Regions from separate parts of the Homo sapiens genome. Here regions 2, 3 and 4 are each linked to region 1. The links come from fine-mapping of genetic effects on gene expression. A gene starts in region 1. Each other region holds a variant in brackets. All regions are shown on one strand. Distances are from middle to middle. Region 1 holds the start of PECR (peroxisomal trans-2-enoyl-CoA reductase). Region 2 has its middle 20 kb from the start of MREG. Region 3 has its middle 12 kb from the start of MREG. Region 4 overlaps PECR (peroxisomal trans-2-enoyl-CoA reductase).

What was found. PIP is the estimated chance that this variant, and not a neighbour inherited with it, causes the effect.
Region 2: its variant is fine-mapped to the expression of PECR in whole blood (TOPMed, PIP above 0.99).
Region 3: its variant is fine-mapped to the expression of PECR in whole blood (INTERVAL, PIP 0.93).
Region 4: its variant is fine-mapped to the expression of PECR in whole blood (INTERVAL, PIP above 0.99). The same link has a PIP of 0.9 or more in blood mononuclear cells.

Annotation. Positions count from the first base shown.
Region 1 is chr2:216,078,438-216,086,673 of GRCh38, reverse strand. PECR (peroxisomal trans-2-enoyl-CoA reductase) reads left to right here and starts at 4,865. Exons shown (of 8, transcript NM_018441.6): 1 at 4,865-5,056. The coding sequence starts at 4,933. It overlaps TMEM169 (transmembrane protein 169), which reads right to left and starts at 4,755. Exons shown (of 3, transcript NM_001142311.2): 1 at 4,695-4,755. RefSeq lists enhancers at 1,910-1,979, 5,104-5,153, 5,184-5,263 and a silencer at 4,654-4,913.
Region 2 is chr2:216,030,505-216,036,860 of GRCh38, reverse strand. It overlaps a transcript of MREG not described here and a transcript of PECR not described here. Among named protein-coding and RNA genes, the nearest start is that of MREG, 20 kb to the right of the region's middle. RefSeq lists an enhancer at 4,377-4,606. The variant G/T (reference allele first, on the strand shown) is at 3,445.
Region 3 is chr2:216,021,616-216,029,851 of GRCh38, reverse strand. It overlaps a transcript of MREG not described here and a transcript of PECR not described here. Among named protein-coding and RNA genes, the nearest start is that of MREG, 12 kb to the right of the region's middle. The variant G/A (reference allele first, on the strand shown) is at 2,129.
Region 4 is chr2:216,037,726-216,045,961 of GRCh38, reverse strand. PECR (peroxisomal trans-2-enoyl-CoA reductase) reads left to right here. Exons shown (of 8, transcript NM_018441.6): 7 at 1,947-2,058; 8 at 6,602-7,574. The coding sequence ends at 6,687. Among named protein-coding and RNA genes, the nearest start is that of MREG, 28 kb to the right of the region's middle. The variant A/G (reference allele first, on the strand shown) is at 4,655.

The DNA of each region.
Region 1 (8,236 bases):
CTTCATAGGACACAGAAGAGAAAATGTCTTACCAGAAATATGACATAAACAACTGTTAAGAAAGAAAGGCTTGATTCTCTTCCCCATTTTTGTATACTTTATTATGCTGTAAGTATTTGATCTGAGAAGCAGGTTCTAAACATTTCTCCTTCCTTTTAGATTTCACAAGAGAGAGGTTAAAAGAAAATTTTACCCAATTTCCAAGGCTTTAATCAATAGACTTGAGAGAAGAGAGAGGACTTTGTTCTTTTCTCTGGCAGTTAAGCTGTGCCCATCTTCCACTTCCACTTCCAGTCTAAAGATTATTAACAGGCTGGTCACGGTGGCTCATGCCTGTAATTCCAGCACTTAGGGAGGCCGAGGCAGGTGGATCACTTGAGATCAGGAGTTTGAGACCAACTTGGCCAACATGGTGAAACCCCCTCTACTAAAAATACAAAAATTAGCCAGGCATGGTGGCACACACCTGTAATCTCAGCTACTCCGGAGGCTGAGGTAGGAGAATCGCTTGAACCCGGGAGGCAGAGGTTGCAGTGAGCCAAGATCACACCACCGCACTCCAGCCGGGGCAACAGAGTGAGACTCTGCCTCAGAAAAAAAAAAAGATTCTTACAAATGTGATATTACAGAGTGTTAGCTTCAATCAACCATTAGCTCTGTACTCTTGGTCATTGTAGGAGGGAAAACAGGTTTTTAAGAACATGCTCATACTCTGGAACTCGTGCTTAGAATAACTGCTTTTAAGCCACTCTTGAAAAAAATTATCCAGATAATTCTTTTTTTGTTTTTGTTTTTTTTTTTTGAGATGGAGTTTCACTCTTGTTGCCTTGGCTGGAGTGCAATGGCGTGATCTCAGCTCACCACAACTTCTGCCTCCTGGGTTTAAGCGATTCTCCTGCCTCAGCCTTCTGAGAAGCTGGGATTACAGGCATGCACAACCATGCCCAGTTAATTTTGTATTTTTTAGTAGAGAAGGGGTTTCTCCATGTTGGTCAGGCTGGTCTCGAACTCCCAACCTCAGGTGATCCGCCCGCCTTGGCCTCCCAAAGTGCTGGGATTACAGGCGTGAGCCACTGCTCCCGGCCCAGATAATTCTTAAATTCATCCACCCAACTTTCCCATCTCCACTGCTTCCCCTCTGGTCTAGGAGGCCACTGTCTCTTAACTGTGGTTCTAAAAAAAATGCTCCTATCTTCCAGCTTCCACTCTTGCTGCCTTCCAATCAATTCCTCACTCAGCAGTAAGCAACATCTTTTACTTAATTTTTTTAATTTTTTGAGACAGAGTCTCACTCTGTCACCCAGGCTGGACTGCAGTGGCACAATCTCAGCTTCCTGCAACCCCCACCTCCCCCACCTGATTCTCCTACCGAGTAGATGAGATTACAGGCGTGTGCCACCACACCCGGCTAATTTTTGTATTTTTAGTAGAGATGGGGTTTCACCTCCCAAAGTGCTGGGATTCCAGGCATGAGCCACCCAGCCAGAAACATCTTTTTAAAACATAAAGAAAATCAGATGGTCAGGCGTGGCAGCGCGCACCTGTCGTCTCAGCTTCTCGGAAGGCTGAGGCAGGAGAATTGTTTGAACCTGGGAGGCAGAGGCTGCAGTGAGCCGAGATCGCTGCCACTGCACTCCAGCCTGGGATACAGAGCCAGACTCCATGTCAAATAAATAAATAAAAATAAAAAAGAAAATCAGGCTGTTTTCTGCTTAAAATCCTCCTGTAACTTCCTACTGTTATACATGTGGAAGTCCATGTGGCCTAAGGACCTCCCCATCCTGCCACCCCATCTGTACCACCATAGTAGGGGTACTATGCTCCAATCACACTGGCTGTGTATTTCTTCCTCAAGAGCACCAAATGCTTCCAAATGCTTGAGGTCTTCTTAACTGCTGTCTATCTTGCTGCTCTGCTGCTCCACCCCGCCTCTTCCTGTGCCCGTTTTTGTTTTTTTGAGTCCTTGTTCAAATGTTTCCTCCTCTGAGCCCTTCTTGACACCCGAACTAAAAACTTGACTCCCTGCTCTGCCTCTCATTATTCTTTATCACAACAGCTTGTTTCCTGTGTAAGGCTTACCAACATTTGTCATTATTTATTTTTCTTTTACTTATTTATTGCATAGCTCTTCTACTAGACTTCAAGCCCTATGAAGTGGTACCATAGAAGTAGGCCAACAAATAGATGCTCGATAAATCTTTTTAAGTGACTGGGTGAAGTGGTAGCAACTCAGGAGTAGCTTATTTTTTGTGAAAGCCTGAGACTAAGGAGAAGTTTAATAAAAAGACATCAATAAGCTCCTTTATATGCCTTGTTATGGCACAATTGCTAGGTAGTTTTGCTTCAAGGTAGGGGCAGGACCAGATGCTTCACTGACATTCTCTCAGCACTGAGATTCTGGGAGTCTAAATGTCGAGAATCCCACAAGCCCCTGTCAGTCTGAGCTAGCAGCTGCTTTGCAGAGGGGAGAAAATAAAGTTACCAGGCAGATGGGGTGGGGGAGGGGTGGGAAGCTGAAGGCAGTCATTGCTAATGGGGTATGACAGAGCTGTGGGGAGAGGTTCGGGGGTGTGGGAGGACCTTGGCCACAGGAATGCCTTTTTCCCCAGGACAAAGAGGGCAGTGACGCAGAGCACAGGGAAGAGCAGCATTTGATTCAACCAAAGGAGTGGTCAGTGCAGCATGGCGTGGTTGCCTTCGGAAGAGATGCCTCAACCAGAGGCAGAACTAAAATTTCAAAACAAAGAGCTTCCAAGCAGCAGATCTATTGCTCTGCTTCCAGGCCTTTTGGCCTGGAACTTAGCGGATTAGTGGACTTTCAAACCCTGACAGAGGTCAGAGGCAGAGGCAAAGAGATCATGCCTCCTAATTTTAAACAAAAGATCGCTTGAAGAGACCCCAAAGCTCTCTTAATTGCAGGTTCTGCCTGGATCATGAAAAATCGCCTTCTGACTGTTCATCCTGCAACTTCCTTGCAGCTGAGGAATGGCACCTTGTCATCCTCAGTAGGCATAACCGGTTTGCAGGCCCCAGTCCCTGTTTCACTGGAAGACATCAGAATCCCACTCTCAGTCCGCTCAGCAGCCACACGGAAGCTGCAGCACAGCCAGCTTCCCACTGACCCACCCTGGCACACCTCTAAGAATCTATAGGTCCAGACCAGGGCATAAATCATGTTAAGTTATATCTTCAATAAAGTTATCATTTAAAAGAATTTAAAGTGTCCCCACCCACAAGAAAGAAAGTCTGGACTTCTCTTGAATAAGATACCCCTCAGAACTGAATCAATATTTCTTTTCCTTAAAAAAAAACACCTTGTCATTGGGATCAAACCAAGAGGAGTTATATGTTTCTGCAACAACACTTTGAGCTTTCCTGTTTGAATTTACTTTGTTTTAAAGGAGGTGATGGCGTTGTAATTTTAAAAATTTGGTCCTAACTACAGAATTGACTTAAGTAGTAGAGTTAAGTGATTCCTGGATAAACTATCTAGCAAATGGTAACCAGGAGATTTATTCCTTTCTTTAACGAGTGTAGATTTGAATCTGTCAGCAACAAAGATAGAGGGAGAAGTGATTCTAAAAAGAGATCAGAGAAGGACAAGAGGATGGAGCAACAGGGAAGTGTAGCTGTCCAACAAGAACTGCAGCCTCGCTGGTGGGTGGGACCTGGTGGAGGAAGTGATGGTCTGATTCCTCTGTCAACCAGACCCATTTCCAATTGGCTTTGTGAATCCTAGGTGGTAGGTCCAACAAAAGGATGATGGCATTTATTTGCCTTTATATTATTTTAATACCTGTCCGGGGAAAATGCAACACTCTGACAACAGCCTTAGAAATAGCATCCCATCTGGATTGTTAAGACCACAGCAACTGGCACATTCGACCAAGTTCTTAGGGTGAAGTCTCAGTAGGCCAGTCCAGGTGTAATCTCACTCTGGTGGGTTCAGAGCGGGAAGCAAGATGAAAAATAAGGAGCAGATCTGAATAATAAATCACTGTTACTGGGCACCATAACACAGACGAGAAATTTTCCCCATCCTCAGCGGGCTCACCCTCCTGCACAAGGAATGAACTACAGGACATGATCTCAAACACCTACAGATGCATCTTGCAGGAAGCGTGCACCCTTCAAGGAAAGATCCTCTTCTGGACTCGCTATGCAGCTCAGCTGAAATGGATCAGGTCTCAAACCTGGTAAAGATGATCTTTCCCCTTGATTCTTGGGTGGGGAGTGGGAGGTGAGACGGAGGTGGGCCTGAGTTTATTTTTTCAAATCGTTTATTCTCTTGGTTCTGTGGAAAACTGCAACCGCATCTCCTCTTCCCCTTCACTCTCTTTCCCGGGCTCCCTCCCGAAGGATGAAAGGATCTGAAAGCCGCATTTCTCCCCCTCAGCTAAGCCTGCCCTTTCTCCCCTTCCCAGCCAGCGGCACACAGCACCTGGAGCCACAGCATCGCCGACGTCCGACCCCGGCAGGCGGGCGCAGCGAGGGCGCCGAGCAGCAGCCTTTCTTTTTCCAGCTGCACTGGAGATTTAATTTTAATTAATCGTGAGAGCTTCAGCCCTGAGGATTGAATTTTTGAAATAGAGCACACCCTGCTTGTTTCTTTCTTCTTCTTTTTTTTTTTTTGCATTTCCCTTCCACCCTCCCCAATGGCATCGAAATTTAAAGAAACGAACGAGCAGTCTCACCCACACCTGCCCAGGGACCGACGCTGGCGGAGGTTGCGGACAGCCGGCGGGGAGCGGTTCTGCTCCGGGAGGATGCGGCTTTGCCGCGGCCGGCGGGCGGGGCGGGGCCGGGCCGGGGAGGGTGCGGGGTTCTGGTGGTCACGTGGGCTCGAGCACCGCCCTGTCCGCCCGCCCGCCTCGAATGTCCCTGAGACCCAGAAGGGCCTGCGCTCAGCTGCTCTGGCACCCCGCTGCAGGGATGGCCTCCTGGGCTAAGGGCAGGAGCTACCTGGCGCCTGGTTTGCTGCAGGGCCAAGTGGCCATCGTCACCGGCGGGGCCACGGGCATCGGAAAAGCCATCGTGAAGGAGCTCCTGGAGCTGGGTACGTGAGCGGGCCGCTGGTGCAGAGAGGTGGCTGTGGTGACCTGGGGTAACCTGGAGACGGGAGCCAGGAGCTCTCGGCGGGGCTGAGGGAGTGTGGAGCTGCAGAGCAAAGACGGGGCAGGTGTGGGCGAAATTACGACCACCAGGGAGACAGAAGAGAGCAGCTCTTCCTAAGGAATTGTGGAGCCACTCGTTAAAAACTGAAGAGACCACTCAGGCCAAAGAGACTGTGCCCCAGGTAGGCAGTAAGAAGAGCAGTGAAACATGCTGTGCAATTAGTTTTATATTCAGATTTAAAATTAATCCATTCTATATGCTTAATGTGAGTGATTAGGAAACGTGGGAAGACTTCATTTAACTGGAAAAAGTTGTGAACATAGTGAGTCTCTCATAGTATCTTCTCACATCTCTTAACCACAGCAAGGAAATATGCTGAATATTTACCTTAACTTGGGTGAAGGAAGGCCTTTGTAAACACATAAGTGAGGGAATAAACCACAAAGGAGAACATAAATCAATCTACCTGTATGAAAGTGTAAATCCTCATTGAATTAAAAAAATATATAAAGTTTAAAGGCATATGAAGAAAAATATTTGCAACATAAGATAAATTGTTTGTTGGTTTTGAGATAGGGTCTCACTCTGTTGCCTACGCTGGTCTCGAACACCTGGGTTCAAGGGATCCTCCTGCCTTGCCTCTGAGTCCTAAAGTTTTGGGATTACAGGCTGAGCCACTAGATTCGGCCAACAGCCTTATACATAAAGAGCTCTTACAAATAAAGAAAAAATCCAACACACTGATAGAAAAATTAGACTAATGGTATGGACTAAGCGTTCCAAAAGAAGAACTACAGACAGGCAAGAAACATATGAAAAAATAATCAACTTTATTGGTAATAAAATATGAAACAGTAAGATTTAACTTTTCTAACAAAATTTTGAAATGTTGGGAAAAATTAAAGTGTTGATGCAGGAATGAGAAGGCAGGAATGTAAATTATTACAAACTTTCTGGAAGGCAATTTGGAAAAAAAGATCCAAAAACCTTCACAATGTTTATGCTCTATGACAGTAATTCCTTTTTCAGGAATTTAAGGAAACGGAGTCAAGCAAAGATTTTCATGCAAGGATGTAGTCTTGAGTAGTGAAAAAATGGAAATTACCTAAAAATCCAATATAAGGAAAATAGTTAAATCAATAACAATGAAATATAATGCTTCCGTTTAAATATCTTGCTATTGGTCCTGGCGCAGTGGCTCACGCCTGTAATTCCAGCACTTTGAGAGGCCGAGGCGGGCAGATAACCTGAGGTCAGGAGTTTGAGACCAGCCTGGCCAACATGGTGAAACTCCATTTCTACTAAAAATACAAACCAGGCATGGTGGCGTACACCTGTAGTCCCAGCTACTTGGGAGGTTGAGGCGCAAGAATCGCTTGAACCTGGGAGGCAGAGGTTGCAATGAGCTGACGTCAAGCCACTGCACTCCAGCCTGGGCAACAGAGCGAGATTCCATCTCAATAAATAAATAAATATCTTGCTATTGAAGACTTACTTGGAGAAATGCATACCATATTATTGGGAAAAGTAGAATTCTAAACCTAATAGCATTCCAATTTTACTTTTTTTTTTTTTTTGAGATGGAGTTTCGCTCTTGTTGCCCAGGCTGGAGTGCAGTGGCGCCATCTTGGCTCACTGCAACCTCCGCCTCCTGGGTTCAAGCGATTCTCCTGCCTCAGCCTCCCGAGTAGTTGGGATTACAGGCACGCACTACCTTGCTAGGCTAATTTTGTATTTTTAGTAGAGATGGGGTTTCTATATGTTGGTCAGGCTGGTCTCCAACTCCCGACCTCAGGTGATCCGCCCGCCTCGGCCTCCCAAAGTACTGGGATTACAGGCGTAAGCCACCGTGCCCGGCCCAATTTTACTTTTAATAAAATATATACATGCAGGGCCGGGCACGGTGGCTCATGCCTGTAATCCCAGCACTTTGGGAGGCCGAGGCGGGCAGAGCACAAGGTCAAGAGTTCGAGACTAGCCTGGGAAAACATGGTGAAACCTCGTCTCTACTAAGAATACAAAAATTAGCCAGGCATGGTGGCGTGTGCCTGTAATCCCAGCTACTCAGGAGGCTGAGGCAGGAGAATGGCGTGAACCCGGGAGGCAGAGGTTTCAGTGAGCCAAGATCGTGCCGCTGCACTCCAGCCTGGGCGACAGAGCAAGACTCAGTATCAAAAAAAAAAAAAAGTATTACATATGCAAAAATGGACTGGAAGGAAGTTTATAAGATTTTTAGCCATTTTTCTGAAAATAATGTTAATTATGAGTAATTAAAATTGTCTTCGTCTTTTAAATATTTTTTAATGAACATCTAAATTATCTTTGGTTACGACTGTGTTTCCAACATCTGGCACAGTATGAACTAAAAAAAAAAAATCTATGTTTTTAGTTAAAAAAAAAAAAAAAAGCAAAAACATTTCCTAGTAAGGCCATGATGTAACCTCATCACCATTACTGCCCAGTTTATTCTCAACACCAAGCTCTATCCTCTTTCAGGAATATCTGTAAGAAAATCAGAATCAGTTATCAATTCATGCATAGGTCAGATACTAGGCTTCTCAGCAGATTCGTAGGACCCTAGTCCACTTTGAAGGATTTTTAATAGATTTTTATGTATTTGAACTTTCATCCTGTTGCATAAGTGTGCTATTTGAACTTTCATCCTGTTGCATAAGTGTGCTATTTGAACTTTCATCCTGTTGCATAAATATGCATTGGCCAAAAACTACACCCCTGGAATAAGGTGATAGACTATATTTTTCTTACCACAAACTAAAACATTAGGACATTGGTCTTGTAATCTTTTGGAAGACATGAATCTGTCTGAGATTCTGATGAAAGTGGTGGCGTGTCTTTTGAGAAAAAGACATCATATACTTAAAAATATATATACACAATTATTTTGTTGTATTGGAAATGGATTTCCTTCAGTGAAAGAATATTAAAAATCTTTTTCTTTTTTTTTTTTTTTGAGATGGAGTTTCGCTCTGTCGCCCAGGCTGGAGTACAGTGGCGCAATCTCGGCTCACTGCAACCTCCACCTCCCAGGTTCAAGCAATTCTCTGCCTCAGCCTCCTGAGCAGTATTTTTAATAGAGACGGGGTTTTACCACGTTGGCCAG
Region 2 (6,356 bases), 49 kb after region 1:
CCCACACTAATCTTATGCTTTGTGGCTTATGTTCAGGTCCTCTGAAAAGCAGGTGCCCAGACATAATGAGATTTGCATGACACTTATTGGGTACCAGGCCCATGAAGGATAAGGGCAGGGAGCCAGAGAAGGCAGCGATGGCCTTCAGACCATGCTGCAAGGCTGACCCCTGTAAAAGAGAGGGGAGAGAGGATTGGGCAGGAGGCATCTCAGATTGCAGCAAAGTGATGCTTTCTTAAGACAGGCTTGCTGAAAGTATGCATTGACATTTACAGTGGCCCACAGGAATACCAGCAGGCGCTCAGTGGGTCATGTGGATTCTCTACAGTGTAAAAGTAACTCTCTCTCCTCCTGCTGGTGCCTGGACAAAGGGAGTTCAGAGATCAGTTCCAGCATCAGTCATAGTTTGTAGCTCACTGGGACCTTATGTCCCCTGGCAAGAGCCTCCCTCTTTGGCACCAGGATTTCCAGTGCTGCTATTCTCCTTAAATCCTGCAGCAGATCATTGGGAATGATGGAATGCAGGGCCACTCCCAGTTTCATCTACCGGATCCCAGACATGGTCCCAAACCTACTGGGGACATGCATCTTTGAAGACAGCAAGCACTCCATCCTGGCCCTTCAGCTGGGTCTTGGTTGTTCAAGCCCTCTATGAGGCTGGCTGCCTATGGATGGTGCGGGGTGTGGATACACAGTGGTTCCACAACCAGGGGCTCACTCTTTCGTCTCCTTCACTGGGAGGTGAGTCACCTGATTGGATGCTATGCCCCATGGGATTCCATGCCTATGGTTCAGGCTTTCTATAGCCCCCAGATAGTCATGGTGTCTGAGTCCCTGCAGGCAGGAAAGACAAACTCTTGCCTGGAAGAGGTATCTGTCACTATGAGGAGTGACGCAGAAACCACACAGCAATTTGAACAGGGCAAGTTAAAAGTGAAGAGTGATTATCACAGCAGATTGGAGTAGTGAAGGACTGGCTAGTAGGAAGTAAAAAGAACTTGAACATGAGAATAGCAGATATCAGGAGTAGCCTGCACCACTAGGACTAAGACTGAGAGCTCAAAGAAGAACCTTGGCTGGGCGCAGTGACTCATGCCTGGAATCCCGGCACTTTGGGAGGCTGAGGTGGGCAGATCATCTGAGATCAGGAGTTTGAGACCAGCCTGGCCAACATGGTGAAACCCCGTCTCTATGAAAAATACAAAAAATTAGCCGGCCTGGTGGCGGGCGTCTGTAGTCCCAGCTACTAGTGAAGCTAAGGCAGGAGAATCACTTGAACCTGAGGGCGGAGATTGCAGTGAGCCAAGATTGCACCATTGCACTCCAGCCTAGGTGACAGAGTAAGACCCTGTCTCGAAAAAAAAAAAAAAAAGAAGAGCCCTCCATAGCACCCCTGGGGCTGACACCCAGATTGAGTAGGGAGGGCATGGCTGTGAATCAGTGGAGGGCAGAGAAGTCACTGTGGTGCTCTGCTGGTGGAACTTGCTAGAAACCTGCCCTCTGGCATCCTGGGGAAAACTGTACAGAGAAGTGTCCTACCAGAGGCCTCTGATGCAAAACCCCCTGAGGGAGGTGCTGGGAAGCTGGTGCTCCTTAGCACTCCTGTGAAGCAGTCTGCACTGCACGGGTCAGGAAGCAAAACCCTCTTCCTCCTCCAATGTCTCTCCATCACCCTCTCCCAACAAAGCTTCAGAGCCCGCTGGCTCAGGGGAACAACTTAGAGGACCCAGATCCATTTTCTCAGAACAGAGGAGCAATTACATCTGGAGCCTGCCACTTGTCGACTGGCCGTCCTGTGGCCCATTGGTCTCCTTAAAGAGCAATGCCACTTCAGGGCTCAGCAATGATCTGTGTTGCAGGAAGGTTGGACATGCAGGGGCAGTGACAGCTCCGTTGACCTTGGTTAACAGGGAGTCCATGCTAATGGGCCGTCTACAGCCTGCCTCCATCACTGTGCCTGTCACACCAGTTCTGGGCTGGCCGGTGATGAAGTCCAGCTATCAACTGGCTGAGTTTTCTTGACTGCTTGGTTGTTCTACACCTCTTCCATGAGGATTGCATTCTGGGGACATTAACGTGGGAGGCGGAAATGACACTCCCCTGGAGCGCCCACTCCCCTGGGCTCATCCGTAATCCTCTACCCCAGACCTTGTTTCCTGGCCACTGTATATATTCTCATCTCGGGCCACTTTTCATTCCATTGTAGATACCAGTTGCACTCTCACACGCTGCCCATTAGAAAGATTTTCCATCTCCACCATCACGGGGCCACTCCTGAATAGAGCTATAATGAAGTTCTGACAACTGTGAAGGAGAGAGAGGAGGAAGGGAATTGGGTAGGAAAAAAAAATATCACAGACTGCAGTACAGTCCAAGAAAGAGAGGGCCAGGCAGATGGGAAGTCCTCAAGGCAAAGTCACCCATGGGAACCACCCTTGTCCCAAGGGAATAGCCTAGATGGACAGCAGGGCTGTGCTTGTCACAGGCCAGGAGCAGCCCGAGGGGAAGGCAGTGATGGATGGAGAGGGGCAGCAGCTGGGACCCACAGCCAATCAATTTTGTTTCCTGTAGCAGGAGGTCTAAGGGGTTTCTTTTCATGGCTGCCATTTGGCTATTCTGCAACTGTAAAACTTCACCATTGATCTCATTCATTTTTTAACATGACCTGGGGCTTGGCTCAAAGCAGTGCCACCTTGTGGTTAGTTTTGGAACACCAGCCTGTCTGGGCAGTGGCTTCTTAGGATGCAAGACCTGCTTGCAAAGCTTCAACTTGAGCTTTAGTTTCTTCCTTTGGTATTTCTTCTGCACTCCTTGTTTACAAGGATTTCATTTCAGCAAAGGAGCCATCTATTGAAATAAGATCAACCAGCGGGAAGATTCTAAACCATATTCAGGAAAGGTATGCTACGTCAAAACTAGCGATTACTGAGCCCATGTTTTAAGACAGCCAAATCTCTAGGCTATTTTGGATCTTATCCTGGACAACACTATTTCTGATTTGTATGGTAACCAAGGCCCTCTGTGGGTTAGTTTCAGCTTTCAAGCAGCCGTGGCTCAGTCTAGTGAGAGGCAGTCCTGCGTTCTGCCTGGTGGGAGTCAGAGTCTTAAGATTTGCCAAGTCCTGATGCCATCAGCATTCACATTGCCTTACAGAGGTCTCCTCCCCACTCCAAGATAGGTAGGCCCACCACCTGTTCTTGTCTGCAGCCTTCAGACTTGTTCTCCTTGAGGTCTTCAGTTCCGCAATAGGAAATATCTTGAAATCCCCTTCTTGACTGAGGCCACCCTTTGCTGAGGTTACTGACCTTTCTGCTTGCTGCTTCCTGGCATCCTGTTTCTCTCTGCTTATTTTGCCCTTTTCTGCCAGTTCCTTCAGGGCTCTTGTTGGATTCTCTCTTTCCATGAAGTACAGATTTTAGAGTGCACTGGAGTCCAACTGCTTGG[G/T]TTCGAATCCCAGCTTCTACCACTTACTCGCTCTTGTGAAGGCATTGAGACAGCGGAGGAATTTGTATGCAAAATTACTGGTCATTTTATTCAACGTGATAATGGCATGGCAGTTGTTATTATTTTTTATTTAAGAAATGTTGATTTCTAGGATTTACTTTAAAATATTCCAACTTAAAAAAATGGAGGAAGGGGGGTTGGTGAAATGAGATTGGCAACATGGTAATAATTGTCTAAGCTGGGTGGCAGATACATTATACATTATCTGTCTGCAGCTATATTATACATTATATGGTTAATTCTACTAGTCTCTCAATCTTGGGTAAGTTTAGAAGTTCCCCAACTAAAAGGTGTAAAGGTTTAAAATGTGTAAAATGAAAATGGCCTCATGAATTATGAATGAATTATTTGTATTCAAATAATTGTGGTTGGTTGTGGAACACCAGCCCGTCTGAGCAGTGCCTTCTTAGGATTCAAGACCTGGTTGCAAAGCTTCAACTTGAGCTTTAGTTTTTTGCTTTGGTATTTCTTCTGCACTCCTTGTTTACAAGGATTTCATTTCAGCAAAGAAGGCATCTATTGAAATAAGACCAACCAGCAGGAAGATTCTAAACCGTATTCAAGAAAGGTATGCTACATCAAAACTAGCAATTATTGAGCCCAAAATGAATTATTTGGATGGGGGTAACATGGGGAAGAGTGAGCTGACTACATATAAAATTTACTGGGGAGAAACAGGAGGGAGTTTGCACTGAGCCTCCTGTAGTTTATGGTGGTTCATGAGTGTGGCAGAGAGAGTGGAAGACCAGGTCCCAAATAGAATATATGTTTGATGGTGTAAAGCTATTGCCTTCTGACCTGGATTCTGCTCTGCAGGCCCTAGGAAGACCCCTGTACCCCTGGTCAGCCTCCCATGCTGGGTTAGCATTACCAGTTAGTCAGCTCTAGCATAAGCCAACTGGGTCAACGGAGGGTTGCAAGAAATGGACAATGTCATCCAATTATTCTATAGCATTGTTGTACCTGAGTTCATATGCTTTGAGTGGGGAAATTATATCCAGTTGGTAAATTTGGAAAAAAACTCAAACAAATCAGCAAAGTAAAAACAATATTCCTTGTTTCTCTTGCATATTTTGGACCATTTGGCTTTTGTTTTCATTTCTCTGGACTGAGTTACAAGTTTAGTCAGAGTTTGTAGTTCTAAGTATGACTCAACAGAGTCAGCTTTTTCAAATGCAAATGATTATCATGGACTTAAATAGCAAGGATTTGAAGAAAAAGAGTCATTTCTGTAAGTGATTCACAGTAGATGTAAGTTAGAATTTCTTACCCTGTAATTTTACCTTCTGCATGAAAAGCTGTCTATCAAAGGCTATTTTGTTAGATGTCTGGCTTCCTGTTCTCAGATGAACCAAGAAGAGAGGAACAGCCTATTTCTGGTTTTACTGAAGCCTTTTAAAAATCCTTGATGATTTAAGAAATACAAAAATACGGAGAAGTAGAGAGGTTCAATTAGAGTTTATAGTAAAAGATGAGGAGGAAGATAAAGTCCTCAGGTAGGTAAGACTTGCTGCGAGATTTAGCTGTGAGACATTGAATCTGGATTAGTTTCAATGGGATTGATTGTGAAGTGGAGGTAGGCTGGTATGGACATTAGGGGAATTGGGGTAAATGGATGCTTTTATCCAATTCTTTTCATTTCCCTTTCTTTCTTTCTTTCTTTCTCTTTCTTTCTTTCTTTCTTTCTTTCTTTCTTTCTTTCTTTCTTTTCTTCTTCCTTCCTTCCTTGTTCCTTTCTTTCTTTTCTTCCTTCTTTCCTTCTTTTCTTTCCTTCTTTCTTTCCTTCCTTCCTTCCCTCCCTCCCTCTTTCCTTCCTTCCTTCTTTCTTTTCTTTTCCCTTCCTTCCTTTCTCTCTTTCTTTCTCTTTCTTTCTTTCTTTCTCTTTCTTTCTTTCTTTCTCTCTTTCTTTCTTTTTCTTTCTTTCTTTTCTTTCTTTCTTCCTTTCTTCCTTTCTTCCTTTCTCACTCTGTTGCCCAGGCTGCAGTGCAGTGGTACAATCTCAGCTCACTGCAACCTCTGCCTCTTGGCTTGAAGCAATTCTCCTGTCTCAGCCTCCCAAGTAGCTGGGTTTACAGGCGCCCACCACCATGCCCAGCTAATTTTTGTATTTTTAGTAGAGATGAGGTTTCACCGTGTTGGCCAGGCTGGTCTCGAACTCCTGACCTCAGGTGATCTGCCTGCCTCAGCCTCCCAAACTGCTGGGATTATAGGCGTGAACCACCATGTCTGGCCTATGCAACTCTTTCTAACGCGTTGTTACCATTTTACTTGGAGGAATGAAACAGAAGACAGATATTTCAGTGAGATACAGAGCAGATGTTTTGATGAGCAAGCAAATGAGAGAGAGAGAGCAGGGACAGAGTGTGTGTGTGTGTGTGTGTGTGTGTGTGTGTGTGTGTGAGAGAGAGAGAGAGAGAGAGAGAGAGAGAATGGGCCTCATAGTGGGCTTGTGTGTTCAAATTGGAATGCCGAAATAAATTGCCCACAGAATTAATTAAACTATGGAATCAAAACATCTGTAATCCTAGCACTTTGGAAGGCCAAGGCAGGCAGATCACCTGAGGTCAAGAGTTCAAGACCAGCCTGGCCAACATGGTGAAACCTTCTCTCTACTAAAAAAAAAAAAAGAAAGAAAGAAATACAAAAATTAGCCAGTTGTGGTGGTGCATGCTAATAATCCCAGCTACTTAGCAGGCTGAGGCACAAGAATCGCTTGAACCTGGGGGCGGAGGTTGCAGTGAGCTGAGATTGTGCCACTACACTCCAGCTTGGGTGACAGGGCGAGACCCCGTCTCAAAAAAAAAAATTGCAAAATATTTTGGGTAACAATAGCTAGCATTTATTAGGTGATT
Region 3 (8,236 bases), 57 kb after region 1:
AGACTCTCAGAGCTAAATTCATTAAACCATCTCCTTTTCCTCTGAATCCCTGTCAAAAACAAATCTAAAACTTTGATTTGCTGTGCAACTTTGCCTGAAGGGAAATACTGGACTATTCTGGCCCTAGGCATTTTCAGCCATGCTGGGAGTTTTGTGTTAGTCTAGGCTGTGTATTTCAGCTTCTGGCGAGTTTGTGAGCATGACTTAGCATCCTTGTATTTTGAGAACTCTGGAAAGAGGGATAACAAGTTTGTGTTTCTAGTTCTTCAAGCCCAAGGGCCAGCCTGGAGGCAGGGGGAGGTGCATAAGCACCTTCTGCCTTGTGTTTATCATTTTGCCTTTGTCGTCCTAACTCAGCAGCCTCAATCCTTCTTTTGAGATGGAGTCTCACTCTCTCGCCAGGCGGAGTGCAGTGGCGTGATCTCAGCTCACTGCAACCTCTACCTCCCAGGTTCAAGCAATTCGCCTGCCTCAGCCTCCTGAGTAGCTGGGACTACAGAAGCGCGCCACCACGCCCAGCTAATTTTTGTATTTTTAATAGAGACAGGGTTTCACCATGTTGGCGACGATGGTCTCAATCTCTTGACCTCGTGATCTGCCTGCCTCAGCCTCCCAAAGTGCTGGGATTACAGGCGTGAGCCACCACGCCTGGCCAGCCTCAATCCTTCTTTACATCTGCTGCCATCAAGCTGCTTTCATCCTTTTATTTTACAGGAAATTATTTATTTCCTTTTAAATAAATAAATAAAGATGAATATAACATCTTTTTTATTGTACTGGTATTTATTTTGGAATTGCTACTTGTAAGTGCTCTGGTCAGAAATTTGTGTATCTTGAGTGGTCTGCACTTAACTCCATATTCCAATGGGGGGAAAACCAAAACTGTGTCTCTCTTTTTCTCTCTCAGAGAAAAAGCCTTATTTTTTTCTTCCTTTTTATGTTCTTTTTCTTTATTGTGGTGTAACTAATATATATAACATAAATTTTGCCATTTTAATGATTTTAAGTGTGCAATTCCTACTGTTGTTATAGACAATTACAGAATTGTCTGTAATTGGTAGAATTCAAATTTCTCAAACAGCAAGATAAATTCAAATATGCATTACCTTAACACTATACAAATTCGAATTCCCAAAATCCAAGTATGTTTGAGAAAATATCTAGAGTACAGTGAGAAAAAATGGAATTAAATAAATACACAATTACTGGAAATCTATGTCAGCTATCACACATTAAAATCCTGCCTAGAAATATCAAATGGAATTTTTTCCATTGATCTGTATATATTTTCAGATTATCTGGGTTTTTTTTTTTTTTTTTTTTTGAGATGGAGTCTTGCTGTGTTGCCCAGGCTGGAGTGCAGTGGCGCGATCTCGGCTCACTGCAAGCTCCGCCTCCCGGGTTCATGACATTCTCCTGCCTCCGCCTCCCGAGTAGCTGGGACTACAGGTGCCCGCCACCACGCCCAGCTAATTTTTTGTATTTTTAGTAGTGACGGGCTTTCACCGTGTTAGCCAGGATCTCCTGACCTCGTGATCTCGATCTCCTGACCTCGTGATCCATCTGCCTCAGCCTCCCAAAGTGCTGGGATTACAGGCGTGAGCCACCGTGCCCGGCCTATCTGGGTATTTTGAGCAAGTTCGTGAAAGACATCTCTTTCAATGGTTTGCAACCATACCACACTATACATGTCATTTATTTCCACTTAAAGCCTATGTTTTACATTATATTTACATGAAGCATTATTTGGTTTTAGTGTAGAAGTCCAAACTCTTGTATGGAAGTCAAAATGCCCTGCCTCAAATTCTAAAATTTTCCTTGTGAAGTAACTGTATTTACATAGAAAAATCAGAAAACTATAATGTTGAGAATTAAACATTAAAATTTCAAGTTTTATTAAATAATTGACTTTAAGTGTATTTTGAAATTTAGTGTCTTTGAAAATTTATTCGACATTTTCAGATTTAGAATGCTTTCAGAAAAACAATGCAACTTGTGAATGACTTTTTATCACAGAGGGTGGGGGAAGGGAGAGTTGGCTTGACTCTTGTTCAGAATGGACATTTTTGATATTAGGCAAATTTTAAACTGACACTTTCTGTTTCTTTCCTTCTTTCAAGGTCCTAGT[G/A]TCTTAACTACCTCATGCCTTTTTCTTTTTTGAGACAGATTCTTGTTCTGTCACCGAGGCTGGAATGCAGTGGTGTGATCTTGGCTCACTGCAACCTCTGCTTCCTAGGTTCAAGTGACTCTCATGCCTCAACCTCCCAAGTAGCTGGGATTACAGGCATGTGCCACCATGCCCAGCTAATTTTTGTATTTTTAGTAGAGATGGGGGTTTCACCATGTTGGCCAGGCTGGTCTCGAACTCCTGGCCTCGAATGATCTTCCCACCTTGGCTTCCCAAAGTGCTGGGATTATAGGGGTGAGCCACTGCACCTGGGTACCTTGTGGCTTTTAGACTATTATTCTTACTTCAAAGTTAAATTTCTCTTAGAGAGCTTCGAACTCTACTGGGTAATGGTGGTGAAATGGTGGTGGCACAGCATTATCTGTTTAAAGATAGTTCAATTCACATATTTTTTAGCTTCCAACAAGTATATTCACACCATTGTTTTGTCTTTCTGTCACCAAACACCAAATGTATTACAGCAAAATATTCCTATACCACCGTTCACATTTTACCAATAAGAGATGATTGATTTCATCAAGTATCTTTGAATTGTTTGGAGGGTGTCTTTGCAAACGGATAATTATTTTGGAGACCCTGAAATCTCTAAACATCATTTTTATTTCAAGAAACTTTAAAGAGTATATGATCATAACACTTCAAACTTCTTTTGAAGGAAAATATTCTTTACATGTAGACAGAAGTTATCTCTCATGTTTAAAGTACAGATTTACATAATTTGGCTATCCAGAGCCTACTACATGGATAGGATGCTTGATTTTAAGTACAGATAGTTTTACCTGATTTGCCTTATGTGATGTAAGTTTACTCTGAAGACAGAGTAACATTTTAGTAATTCCTAGTTATTAAAAAATTAAGGTTCTTACAGTAGAGCATTAATTTTCATAAAGTGGGCTGTTCCCAGGGAAGAGATTTTTTGTGTTTGAGTGTGTGTGTGTGTGTATGTTTTACCCCATTTTATTTAATTGAGGTGAAATTGACATAATATAAAATTAACCAGTTTAGCCAGTTGTGGTGGCTCAAGCCTGTAATCCCAGCACTTTGTGAGGCAGAGGCGGGTGGATTGCTGGAGCTCAGGAGTTCAAGACCAGCCTGGGCAACATGGTGAAACCCCATGTCTACAAAAAATAAAAAAATTAGCTGGGCATGGTGGCGCATGCCTGTAGTCACAGCTACTCAGGAAGCTGAGACGGGAGGATCGCTGGACCCTGGGAAGGTTGCAATGAGCCTAGATGGTGCCACTGCACTCCAGCCTGGGCAACAGAGTGAGACACTGTCTCCAAAAATAAATAAATAAATAAATAAATAAACACAATGGAAGTAACCATTTTAAAATGAATGATCCAGTGGCATTCAGCACATTCACAATGTTGTGTAATCATCATCTTTGTCCAGTTTCAAAACGTTTTCATCATCCCAGAAAGAAACTTTATATACATTAAGCAGTTGTTCTTCATATTCTGTCCCCCACCCCTGTCCCCAGCAGCCATCAGCTGGAGTTATGTCTCTCTATGGATATTTAATGTATATTGAATCATATAATGTGTGACCTTTTGTGTCTGGCTTTTTTCACTTATCATAATGTTTTTGAGGGTCATCCACATTGTAGCATATGTCAGTACTTCTAGGGAAGAGTTTTCATCATGTTTATGTGGGTGAGACTGCTTCTACTTGTGGACAATTTCCTGAACCTTATTTCTAGAATGTTCCCTCCAAAGGGCTGAAGGCTTAAGTGTTCATGCCTGGAGGACTTCATCTTATGTTAAAGAAATCTGATAAAAGAATTCCTGGCATTTTGAGAGGAAGGAAATCCTGAGCTTGTGTGACTGCCCACACGGATGGATTTCGGTGCAGGGATTGCCGAGCAGTGGCTGCTGAGATTCACGGGCTCTAGATCCTCCCTCCGGAAGGAAGGAGCTGCTGGAAGTGTTGCCCGACACGGCCCTAGCTGTCAGCCCATTTCTGGGACAGCCTCTGCTGAAGAGGGCTGCCTCGGCTAAGGCCATGTTCCTTTCCCAGGTAGGCCTCATCCAAAGACTGATTGTCATGGAGGGGACAGAAAGGGCCAGTTCTCGCTTACTGACTGACTCAGAGCAGCTCTGAATTTTCATTCTGTCTTTAGAACTCCCCATAGGGTTGACTGAGGCCCAATCAGTTCCTTTGTGCCCTTCTTTTCCACAGGTGTTGGTTCTATGCACACTCATAATAAATCTCCTGTATGCTAAATTCCATCTCAGAGTTAGCTTTCCTGGGAAGCTAATTGGCAGTACCAGATTTTCTGCCAGTTAGAAGGAAGGAAGGTCTGCACCTCCTCTAAGTTGAGAAGCTTTGCTTTTGAGCTACTGGGCTGTCTGTGGGTAGTAGAGGTCTTCTTTCTTAGTTTTACAATTTTTGTCCTGTCGAGATCTTTAAATCAACCTCTTCTGGGTATCAGTGGGGTGGCAGCTAAGGATTTTGCCTTTATTAATGAGTTTTGCATTACTACAAAACCATTCTCCTATGTTGCCATAGAGAAAACATAAACATTAAAATGAGATGTGCATTTTCATGCATTCTCATGCTTTTCAGGGATGTCACAGTGCCAGGAATCATGAAAGGGATACAAACTGTTATGCCAGTTCATCTTTATAATACATTTTCTTTCTTTCTTCCTTTCCTTTCCTTTTCCTTTCCTTTTCCTTTTCCTTTTTCCTTTCCTTTCCTTTCCTTTCCCTTCCTTTCCCTTCCTTTCCGTTCCTTTTTTTTTTCCTTTCCCTTCCTTTCCCTTCCTTTTTTTTTTTTGAGACAGAGTCTTGCTCCGTCGCCCAGGCTGGAGTGCAATGGCGTGATCTCGGCTTACTGCAACTTCTGCCTCCCTGGTTCAAGCAATTCTTCTGCCTCGGCCTCCCAAGTAGTTGGGATTACAGGGGTGAGCCACCATGCCCAGCTGATTTTTTTTTCTTTTGAATTTTTAGTAGAGATGGGGTTTCACCATGTTGGCCAACCTGGTCTTGAACTCCTAACCTCAGGTGATCCACCCGCCTCGGCCTCCCAAAATGCTGGGATTATAGGCATGAGCCACCACACCCAGCCAATATATTTTCTATAGGCAAGAAACCGTATTTGTTTAACAACAATTGGACAGGTTCTGCTCTCCCTTGGACTGAGGAGTACTTTGATAAGTCATTTGGCTTAGGGACAAAAGAGAGGGCACGGGGCGTCCTTTTTTTTTTTTGAGACTGAGTCTCACTCTGTCACCCAGGTTGGAGTGCAGTGGTGTGATCTATGCCTGGCTAATTTTTGTATTTTTAGTTGAGATGGGATTTTGCCATGTTGACCAGGCTGGTCTTGAACTTCTGACTTCAGGTGATCTGCCTGCCTCAGTCTCCCAAAGTGCTGGGATTACAAGTCTGAGCTACCGTGCCTGGCCAGCACCTGGTCTTCTTATGGGGTACATAGGAAAGATGTGAGTGATAGGGAGGGGTGGCCCAGTTTAAATTCCCTACCTGAAGTGACAAGACCTTTCTAAATTGAAAAGAGCTCAAGGAGAGAAGACCCTGAAAGGCTCGGCATGGCAAGGGAGAGTGGAGCTTAGAGGCATCCAGTTTCAGCTCCACAAAGTGATTCAAAGGGGTACTCATGGCATATACTTGAAAGGGCCCTCTACTTTGGTCAAGCAAAATATTTAATATTAAGCATTTATCAGTTGGAGAGGCTGGCCAGGTGTGGTGGCTCACACCTGTAATCCCAGCACTTTGGCAGGCCAAGATGGGCAGATCACTTCAGGTCAGGAGTTTGAGACCAGCCTGGCCAACATGGTGAAACCGTGTCTCTACTAAATGTATAAAAATTAACTGGGCATGGTCGTGGGTGCCTGTAATCCCAGCTACTCAGGAGGCTGGGGCAGGAGAATCGCTTCAACCCTGGAGGCAGAGGTTGCAGTGAGACAAGGTTGTGCCACTGCACTCCAGCCTGGGCAACAGAGTGAGACTCTAACACACACACACACTCAGAGAAATAAAATGTAAAAACAAGAAGTTTTAATGCTTCATTTAAATTGCTTCCCTTATATTATTTAAGAAATATATCTAGTGGCCTATACACTTTCCATGGTTTTCAGGCTAATAAATCAAATACCAATGCTTAATAAGATGAAATGAAATAGTAATACAATAATCAAAGCTATTTGGCACATGGTAGCCAAGAAAAGAGAGGATTTACTTATTGCTCAATTTAGCAGTGCCCTAACAGGTTTAGAGTTTAGTTTACAGCTAGTTTAAATCTCCCACTTAAATATTACTATGTCCCTTTAAGCTCTAGGTTCATACAGGCATTGTGGCTACAGCAGCTTTCCATCTGTTGAGTAAAAGAAAGCTTTAGAACCTATTTGAGATCCTTAGCCCCATCTCCAAAGAGACTGCAGTGAATTTACAATTGGATGCCAGGAGGTGGCAGCACAGAGGATTATAGGAAGGTTTGTATATAACCTTTGTGGGGAAGTCTAAGGTTTGTATATAACCTTTGTCGGGGAGGTCCACCTGCTGTCTTTACTTTGGTAGAACTTGTCCGGGAGAGTTGCAGGGTTCTGGCCTGTCGATGTATCTCTTGAGTGTTGTGGAGAAAGAAACCATATAAAGGAATGGTGAACTAAAAACACGAATTTAAAGGCATAAATTCGGTTATCTTTAACACTCAGATGGGTAGGATCTGGGCTTAAAGTTGAGGCAAGCCTCCGGTCGCCTTTCATAGCAAATGTGAATGATGCTCAGGTTTTCTCCTACTACAGTTTTTGATGCATATTTTCTCCTATTTTGCAACTTCGAGTCACCTTGCATATAGCAAGTGCTTAATAAATGCTTCTTAGAAACTCTGCTTCTGCTTCTTAGAGTTTAATTGAATTAGGAAGCACACCGATGATAGCTGGGTCTAGGCTTATGTTTAATTTTGGTTAGGTATAATATGGAGAGACTTTGGAGAACACAGAAAACTTGGAATAGTAGGGGGCTTGTCTTCCGGAGGTAGGAAGAGGTTGAATTCCAAATCTCATCTCTGGGGCTGAGAATTGAGACTGTTCTGGGCATCTGGAAAGTGTTTGTTATGGCAGGAGAATTAGCTGTGACAACAGAGTTCAATATAGGAGTATAGTTAGAGATGGAGATATAATTAAAGTGGGAATATTGTTAGACGTAGCAGTATAATTAACTATGGGAGACTAGAGATGACAACATAGTTAGCTATAAGAATCTACTTAGAGATTGCAGCATAGTTAATCATGGGAAATATGGGGGTGAGGTAGGGAAGAGCACATGGTAGGAACTGAAGGATGGGTGACTCGAGGCATAGATGAATACAGAACATTTGAGTTCCATAATTTTCTATTTTTGGCTCTGGATAGTACTCTGAGGATGAGTACTGTTATTATTATTATTTTTTGAGACAGAGTTTTGCTCTTGTCACCCAGGCTGGAACACAGTGGCACTATCTCAGCTCACTGCAACCTCCACCTCCCAAGTTCAAGTGATTCTCCTGTCTCAGCCTCCCAAGTAGTTGGGATTACAGGTGCCAGCCAGCCACCACACCCAGCTAATTTTTCTAATTTTTGTCTTTTTAGCAGAGACGGAGTTTCACCATGTTGGCCAGGCTGGCCTTGAACTCCTGACCTCAGGTGATCCACCTGCCTCAGCCTCCCAATGTGTTGGGAGTATAGGCCTGAGGCACCACAGCCGGCCAAGTACTGTTTGTTTTTCATCTTTGCATTCCACAAGAGGTTGAGCTCAGTGCCATGCTTACACAGTTGATAATAAATACTTGTTGAGTTGAATCCTTTCAGATGGTCACAGTTGGCAATGGAAGGTGATGGGGTCGGATCTGACTAAAGTATGAATACTTAACAATAATTGCAGCTAACGTTTACGCAGTGCTTCCCATTTCCCATGAAATTGTACTAAGGGCTTTCTGTGTTATTTCACCCAATCCTGACAGCAGCCACAGGGAAGCACTGTTATGCCAAAGACCATACTCTAAACAACCCTGCCAGTGGTTCATAAATTTGACGTGCCTCAGAATTCC
Region 4 (8,236 bases), 41 kb after region 1:
AGGTGATCCACCTGCCTCGGCCTCCCAAAATGCTGGGATTACAGGCGTGAGCCACCGCGTCTGGCCGGTTTTTTGTGTTTTTGAGGGAGTGTGGTTTACAGATTGTTAGAGGTTGTGACTACTTGGGTGGGATGGTTGTTGTCTGGATGGCATTTCAGAAAGGAGCTCATTGGAGCAAGTCTCTTTTTGATGCGCTGACTTTAACAAACATGTTCATTGGCTGAGTTGTCACTACTGGATCAAACAGGGTTAAAACCAGCTCTGTTGCTTGTTACCATGTCTCAGTACAATCTGCCTTTTCACAGTAATGTGGGACCTTTTAAATAGTGAATTCTATACCAGCCCTGTCCAGTAGAAATATACTAATAGTCACATTTGTAATTTTAAACTTACCAGGAGCCACATAAAGTAAAAAGAGGTGAAATTAATTTTAATAATATATTTGACTTAGCCTAATACATCCAAAACATCGTCATTTCAACATGTAATCAACATGGAAAATTGAGATGATTTTCTTCATCCCTCGGAGCATCCAGGATTAATGAGATATTTTACATTATTTTTCCCATACTCAGTCTTCAAAATCCAGTGTGTGTTCTATACTTACAGCACGTCTCAATTTGGACCAGTCATACTGAAAGTGTTTGAGTAGGCGACTATGTCTAATGGCCTCGTTTTAGATAGTGCAGCACTGTACTAGCTGCTGGGAATACAAGGATGGAGAGAAGGCTTGGCTGCTCTCCAAGCTCTTAGAGTCTCAAGGAGGTATAGCCTTGTGAATATAGGACCAGGACTGGGATGAGGCAAGCAAGGCATGGACACAAAATTTAAGGACCCACTCCCTCTGAGGGAAGATTTTGCACTTGTGCAAACCTGAGAGTGAATACCTCCTTAAATCTTGCACCCTCGACACCTTATTTGCCTCACCCTAGTCCTGGCCCTGCCTGGGGGCCTTTTAAACTGCAGATTCTGGGACCCCAACCCCAGAGCTTACAATTGCAATGATCCTGGAAGGATCTAGGAATCTGAAGTCTCAGTAAGCATCCCTAGTGATTCTAATGCAGGTGTTTTGGATCATCACCCTTTGAGAAACTCTGCTTCTTCCCACAGCCTCAAGTGAGAGCTCCTTTACAAGTCAGTGAAATAACTTCCTTCTGTTTGGGTTGGGAGTAGATGTTGCTGAACTCATCAGTTCCCTATTTGAATTTTTAAGGAGTACAGTGGGAGTCTGAAGTGCCTTTGGTTTATTTTTATTTTTATTTTTTTGAAATGGAGTCTCACTCTGCCACCCAAGCTGGAATGTAGTGGTGCAGTCTTGGCTCACTGCAACCTCTTAGGCCCACGCAATGCTCCCACCTCAGCCTCCTAAGGAGCTGGGACCACAGGTGCCCGCCACTGTGCCTGGCTAAGTTTTTGAAGTTCCTCTTGTAGAGAGCTCCTTTGAATGTGTGTTGCTGGGCTTTTGGCCTGACAGGACCGCAGACTGAACAAACCAGAATGCTAGTTTATTGCTAAACAGACACATTGACTATTTCAGGGACCAAAACATAAAAGGCACGAGGTAGTGATGGAAAATGGGGTTGTGGAGGACAATGAAAGGCATGGAAGGAAGTGAATTGTTTGAAATGGGAAAGAGCAGAGCTGAAGCACTGAGTTCACTTATGGCTTCTTGACGTCATGTAGCTTGCTTGACATCGTCTAAGGCTCCCTCATACCTTGCCACCTTTACCCTAGTCACCTACCTGATTTCGGTGATGCTCAGGTAGAAAGGGAAATTGTAGGAAAAGGAAGTTGTCTATGTACTGTGAGGTTGTGGTGCACATGCACACACTGTTGGATTCATGTTACAATCATGGGCTTTGAGATGCCTTTACTGGGGAATGTGAGGCGGTTAGAAATGGGGAGTATTTGCTTTTACCTATGCACATGTGTGTTTCTGTTTCCAGGTCTCCTCTGTGGTCTGCTTCCTACTGTCTCCTGCAGCTTCCTTCATCACTGGACAGTCGGTGGATGTGGATGGGGGCCGGAGTCTCTATACTCACTCGTATGAGGTACCAGGTGAGCAGCTGAGGAATGAGCAGTCACCAGCTTTATGCTGTGTCATGTTCAGGGGTTTAAAATTTATTATAAGTAGTTACTTAAGAGATGAGGGTGCTCTCTTATAGAACATCAAAATGTACAAAATGTTTATATTCATGATGTGATTTTTTTAATGAAATATTCCTAGTCACAGAAAATATCTAACTATCTATATTATGGAACTGAGCTTTTTGTGCATGCATAGGTTGGTGGAATTTGAACCCTGAAAAATATTCTCAGTATATGTTTCGAAAGAGGAGACAGAAAAGAGGCAAGAGCATGCTATAGTTTTAAAGATTTAATTCCATTTTGTTCCTCCAGTAAATGGCTTACATATCTGAGCAGAAGAATCAGGCCTGCTAGGTGGGGTGGGGTGCTATGGTGCTATTTTGTGCTCTCTTTGAGATATATATTGAATGAAGGCATATGAAATTTCTGTATTCATCATTTTTGATGTACAAAAACAGAAATTTGGCCGGGTATGGTGGCTCATGCCTGTAATCCCAGCACTTTGGGAGGCTGAGGCAAGTGGATCACTTGAGGTCAGGAGATAGAGACCAGCCTGGTTAACACAGTGAAACCCCGTCTCTACTAAAAATACAAAAAAATTAGCCAGGCTTGGTGGCGGGTGCCTGTAGTCCCAGCTACTTGGGAGGCTGAGGCAGGAGAATGGTGTGAACCCGGGAGGCGGAGGTTGCAGTGAGCCGAGATTGTGCCACTGCACTCTAGCCTGGGCGACAGAGTGAGACTCTTATCTCAAAAAAAAATATATATATATACGCATACATATATATGTATGTGTATATATATACATACATATATACGTATGTGTATATATATATACACATACATATATACGTATGTGTATATATATATACACATATACGTATGTATATATATATACACATATACGTATGTGTATATATATATACACATATACGTATGTATATATATAACAGTTAGTCGGGTGTGGTGGCGGGCACCTGTAGTCTCAGCTACTTGGGAGGCTGAGGTAGGAGAATCACGTAAACCCAGGAGGCGGAGATTGCAGTGAGCCAAGATCATGCCACTGCACTCCAGCTTGGGAGATAAACCAAGACTCTGTCTCAAGAAAAAAAACCAGAAGTTTTATAAGTTTAAATCAAATATTGATATTACATGCAAATGCCTTTATGTGTGTGTGTGTCTCATGACTAGATAACAGAACTTTGCGGTTTGAAGGGTCCTAAAAGATCACAAAGTCCAGTATCCTAGTTTTATAAACAACAAAACAAATCCACAGACGTTAAAAGGTTTATCTAAGCTAATAACTCTAAATCACTCCAAAAATGTAGTAAAGGGTATAAAATGCAAATGTATTGAATTTCTGTTGTTAAAGATAATTAAGTGGCTACTAGCAAATTAATAGATGGTTGATGTAACCCAGGTGAATCTGAATTTCATATCAAGGACCCAGGGTCTACGTACTCTTTCAGGTGCTGACAGTCTGATCAAGGCTTAAGGCCTTTTTTGCGTTAATAAATGATTGGTGTATGTGAGAGGCGAGCAAAAACTCAAACTGGTTTTCCTCTGCTCTCACAACACAACAACCATTAGCACGGAAGACTTCTGTGACCAGTTGTTTGGGGTTACTTCCCCCGCACAGCAACCAAGCAAGCAGTTCTGCAGCAGACCCCAGCTGGGCGTCCTCTCATTCAGTTCTGACACTGGAGATAGGATCAGATCCCACAGGCTGAGGGCTCAGTCCCACAGGATGCCCCCTGCTTTGGACACCATCACAAGTCTGGGCCTCTAAAACTTCTGACTGACTAGCTTCAAGTTGGGGTTCCCACGACCCCCTCTTTGGGTTGGAGTAATTTGCTAGAGCAGCTCACACAACTCAGGAAAACACTTCGATTTACTGGTTTATGATAAAGGATATTACAGGAGATACAGCCGAAGGGGTGCACAGGGCAAGGCATGTGAGAAGGGGCACGTAGCTTCTGTGTCCTTTTTGGCCCCACCACCTGCCAGGAACCTTCATGTGTTCAGCTATCTGGAAGCTCTTGAACCCAGTCCTTTGGGTTTTTATGGAGGCTTCATTACATAGGCATGGTTGATTAAACCATCAGCCACTGGTGATCAACTTAACCTTCAGCCCCTCTTACCTCCCCAGAGGTTGTGGGGTGGGTATGGGCTGAAGGTCCCAACCCTGTAATCATGCCTTGGTCTGTCTGGTGACCAGCCCCTATACTGAAGCTAACTAGGGGCTGCCAGCCATCAGTCAATCATTAACATATAAGAACACATCACTTTGGCGAGTCTAGGATATTAGGAGTTGTATGCGGGAGATGGGGTTGAAGACCAAATATATGTTTCACAATATCACAGTATAGAACTTTAATTTTACTTATTATTTTCCCCTCCCACATGTATTTCATTACTAATAACATCAATGTGGTGATGTCCATAGGATACTGTAGTTTTAAGGGTCTTGGTTGGAAAGAAGAAATACCTACATGGTTTTGCCATATTGTTTTCTGAAAAAAATTCCAAGTAGTGAGGGTGGAGAGAATCTTTCCACTTCTCTCACAGT[A/G]GACTTCAGTCACTATTTCTTATCGCAGGTTGCACTGTTTTACCTTTAGAAGGGAAAGAAATTTCAAATAGCTTCTTCCTTAGGCCTTCAGTGACATGATTTTCTTTTGTAATTCTAACACTTTTTATCATTAAAAATATTTTTTTCAGTTTTTGAGGAAAGCGGGTACATCTATCTTTTAAGAATATACTGCCCCCCGAATAATGAGATTATTCAGCCTTTCACTATGGTGTTTTCTTTTAAGATTGGCAGCTCCAAGGTGAGAATGCCTAAGATGGAAACTTGGCTCTACCCTTATTAGCCGTATGATTGTGAGAAAGTTAATTTCTATAAGCCTCTATTTTGTTCCTGTATGCAGGGACACATACAGTATTTATTTCATAGAGCTGTTGGGAGGATTAAATTAGATAAGGGACTTTTTCTTTTCTTTTTTTTTGAGACAGAGTCTCACTCTTGTTGCCCAGGCTGGAGTGCAGTGACATGATTTCGGCTCACTGCAATCTCTGCCTCCCAGGTTCAAGCAATTCTCCTGCCTCAGGATCCAGAGTAGCTGGGATTACAGGTGCCCGACACTATGCCCCACTAATTTTTTTGTAGTTTTAGTAGAGATGGAGTTTCACTATGTTGGCCAGGCTAGTCTCGAACTCCTGACCTCAGGTGATCCGCCTGCCTCGGCCTCCCAAAGTGCTGGGATTACAGGCATGAGCCACTGTGCCTGGCCTTAGATAATGCACATTTAAATCCCTATGTCAGGGGCTGGGCACCATGGCTCACACCTGTAATCTCAGCACTTTGGGAGGCAAAGGTGGGCCAATTGCTTGATCCCAGGAATTCAAGACCAGCCTGGGCAACCTGGCAAAACTCCGTCTCAACAAAACATTTAAAAAATTAGCCTGGCATGGTGGCATGTGCCTGTACTTGGGAGGCTTAGGTGGGAGGATCACTGGAGCCCGGGAAGTCGAGGTTGCAGTGAGCCATGATTGCACAACTGCACTCCAGCCTGGCTGACAGAGCAAGACCCTGTCTCAAAAAATAAAAATTAAAAAAATAAAGTCATTTGTCGAATTGGATGCTTTTAGTCACAACTCAAAATGGGCTCATCAGTAAAGGAATTCGCTGGCACATAACTGAAAAACAGGTAAGACTTGACTTAGTAGCTCACTGATCTCATCAAGGACAAGTTTTTCCCCTGTTTCCTGTTTTTGCCTCCATGGTGTTGGCTCTATCTTAAGGCAGGCTCTCCTCATTGCAGGATGGCTGCCTGCTGTTTCTATGTGTAAGGCTGATACTTCTGTGTTCATACCCAGATGCACAGAGAGAGGGCTGGAGGAGTGACTTTGTTCCAGAATTTCTAACAAAATTCTGAGATCCACTCTATATTCGATCAACTTATGCAAATGTCCATTTCCAACCAATAACTGTGGCGGGGTTATAGTGCACTGACTGACTTAGCTTAGACCACATGCCTTGGTGCCAAGCTTCCCTGGCACCTTCTAGATCGTTAAATGGAAACAAGCTGTTGGAAAGAAGAGATGGGGACCTGGATGCTGGAGAGGCAAGTAGCAGTGCCTGGTACAAAGTAAGGACACTATTTTTAAATTGTGATTATTAAGGAGACACTATTTATTGACGATCCACAGTATGCGAAGCACTGCACACATGGTGTCATATTTAACCCTCACAACTTTAAAAGGTAGATATTGTTGTATCCTTTAATAGAGGAGGAAACTGAGGCTCAGGAAGAGACATGTGCCCAAATTCAGGAAAGCTAACGTGTGGCAGACCTGAGATTCAAATTGAAGTCTTTTCTCAAATGTTTGCCCTAAGGATTTATTTTTTGGTGCTGAGAAAATGTGTGAACCAGGGAAATTAACAAGAGGATTTGGTGGGAGTGAAGAGGGCAAATGAGATTTGCAAGTGACAGGAGGCTTTCCACTTCTTTAACAGATCATGACAACTGGCCCAAGGGAGCAGGGGACCTTTCTGTTGTCAAAAAGATGAAGGAGACCTTTAAGGAGAAAGCTAAGCTCTGAGCTGAGGAAACAAGGTGTCCTCCATCCCCCAGTGCCTTCACATCTTGAGGATATGCTTCTGTACTTTTTAAAAGCTTATAGTTGGTATGGAAAACATTTTTCTTATTTTTAAGTGTTATTAATTATATCTATGGAAAAACTATTCCTGAAATATATACAGTCTTATGTCCCAATCAGAGTCTTTTAACCTATGATTTAAAAATGTATAAGTAACAGAAATTAACATATTTTAATGACTTTACTTTTTATTTCTAAGAAAAGTATTTGAAAAATGGAATAATTTTAAATCAATGATAATTCTAGGGATCATGAACTCCCAGAAGATTTTATTATTTAATTGTAAAGGTAGAGGCCAGACGCAGTGGCTCACGCCTGTAATTCCAGCACTTTGGGAGGCCGAGGTAGGCGGGTCAGTTGAGGTCAGGAGTTCAAGACCAGGCTGGCCAACATGGTAAAACCCTGTCTCTACTGAAAAACAACAAAAACAAAAACACAAATTAGTCGGGTGTGGTGGCACACACCTGTAGTCCCAGGTACTTGGGAGGCTGAGGCAGGAGGATCGCTTGAACCCAGGAAGCAGAGGTTGCAGTGAGCTGAGATCATGCTACTGCAGTCCAGCCTGGGCTACAGAGTGAGACTGCATCTCAAAAAAAACCCAAAAAACAAAAACAAACAACAACAACAAAATTATAAAGGTAGAAAATAAACCTAAATTGTGTCGTAATTAAGATTATTAAAATTAGAATTATACAATGACTTATTTTTGGTGGCAAATACTTTAGGAGCAATAATGCCTTATGGTAATTATTGATGTATAGTTTCTTTTGTTTATGAAGTCAAATTTGTATAAATTCTCTTAATTCAAAGAAAAAGTTTTATGTGATTTATTTTTGGCAGTGCCTGATTTGTGTCTTGATTTTCTGTCCAAAGTATTCCCTTTTTTCCATGTATCTCCTTTTGTAGGCAAAAACAAAATTTCAGTTGCATGCAAATGTATTAGGGTTCCATATTCTGCCTTCCGTGGCTCCAGTCTGATAGTTAGACCCTTATTGAAGAAATGCCTTTAGCAGATTGAATATGTTCATTCTTTGTCTTAATCAAAGTTCTTTCAAGTATCTGAGGTGAAGTAGCTATTTTCTTTTTTTTATCATTAACACTCACTTTATTTATTTATTTATTTATTTATTTTTAAGATGGAGTCTCACTCTGTCACCCAGGCTGGAGTGCAGTAGCATAATCTCGGCTCACCACAACCTCCACCTCCTGGGTTCAAGTGATTCTGCTGCTTCAGCCTCCTGCGTAGCTGGGATGACAGGTGTGCACCACCACGCCCGGCCAATTTTTGTATTTTTAGTAGAGATGGTGTTTCACCATATTGGCCAGGCTGGTCTTGATCTCCTGACCTTAAGTGATCTGCCCGCTTTGGCCTCCCAAATTGCTGGGATTACAGGTGAGAGCCACCACGCCCGGCCTGTCATTTACCCTCATTTTAAAGTGTGTGAGTTACCAAGCTCTGGGGTTTGGGACCCAGAATCTGCAGCTTTCTCAT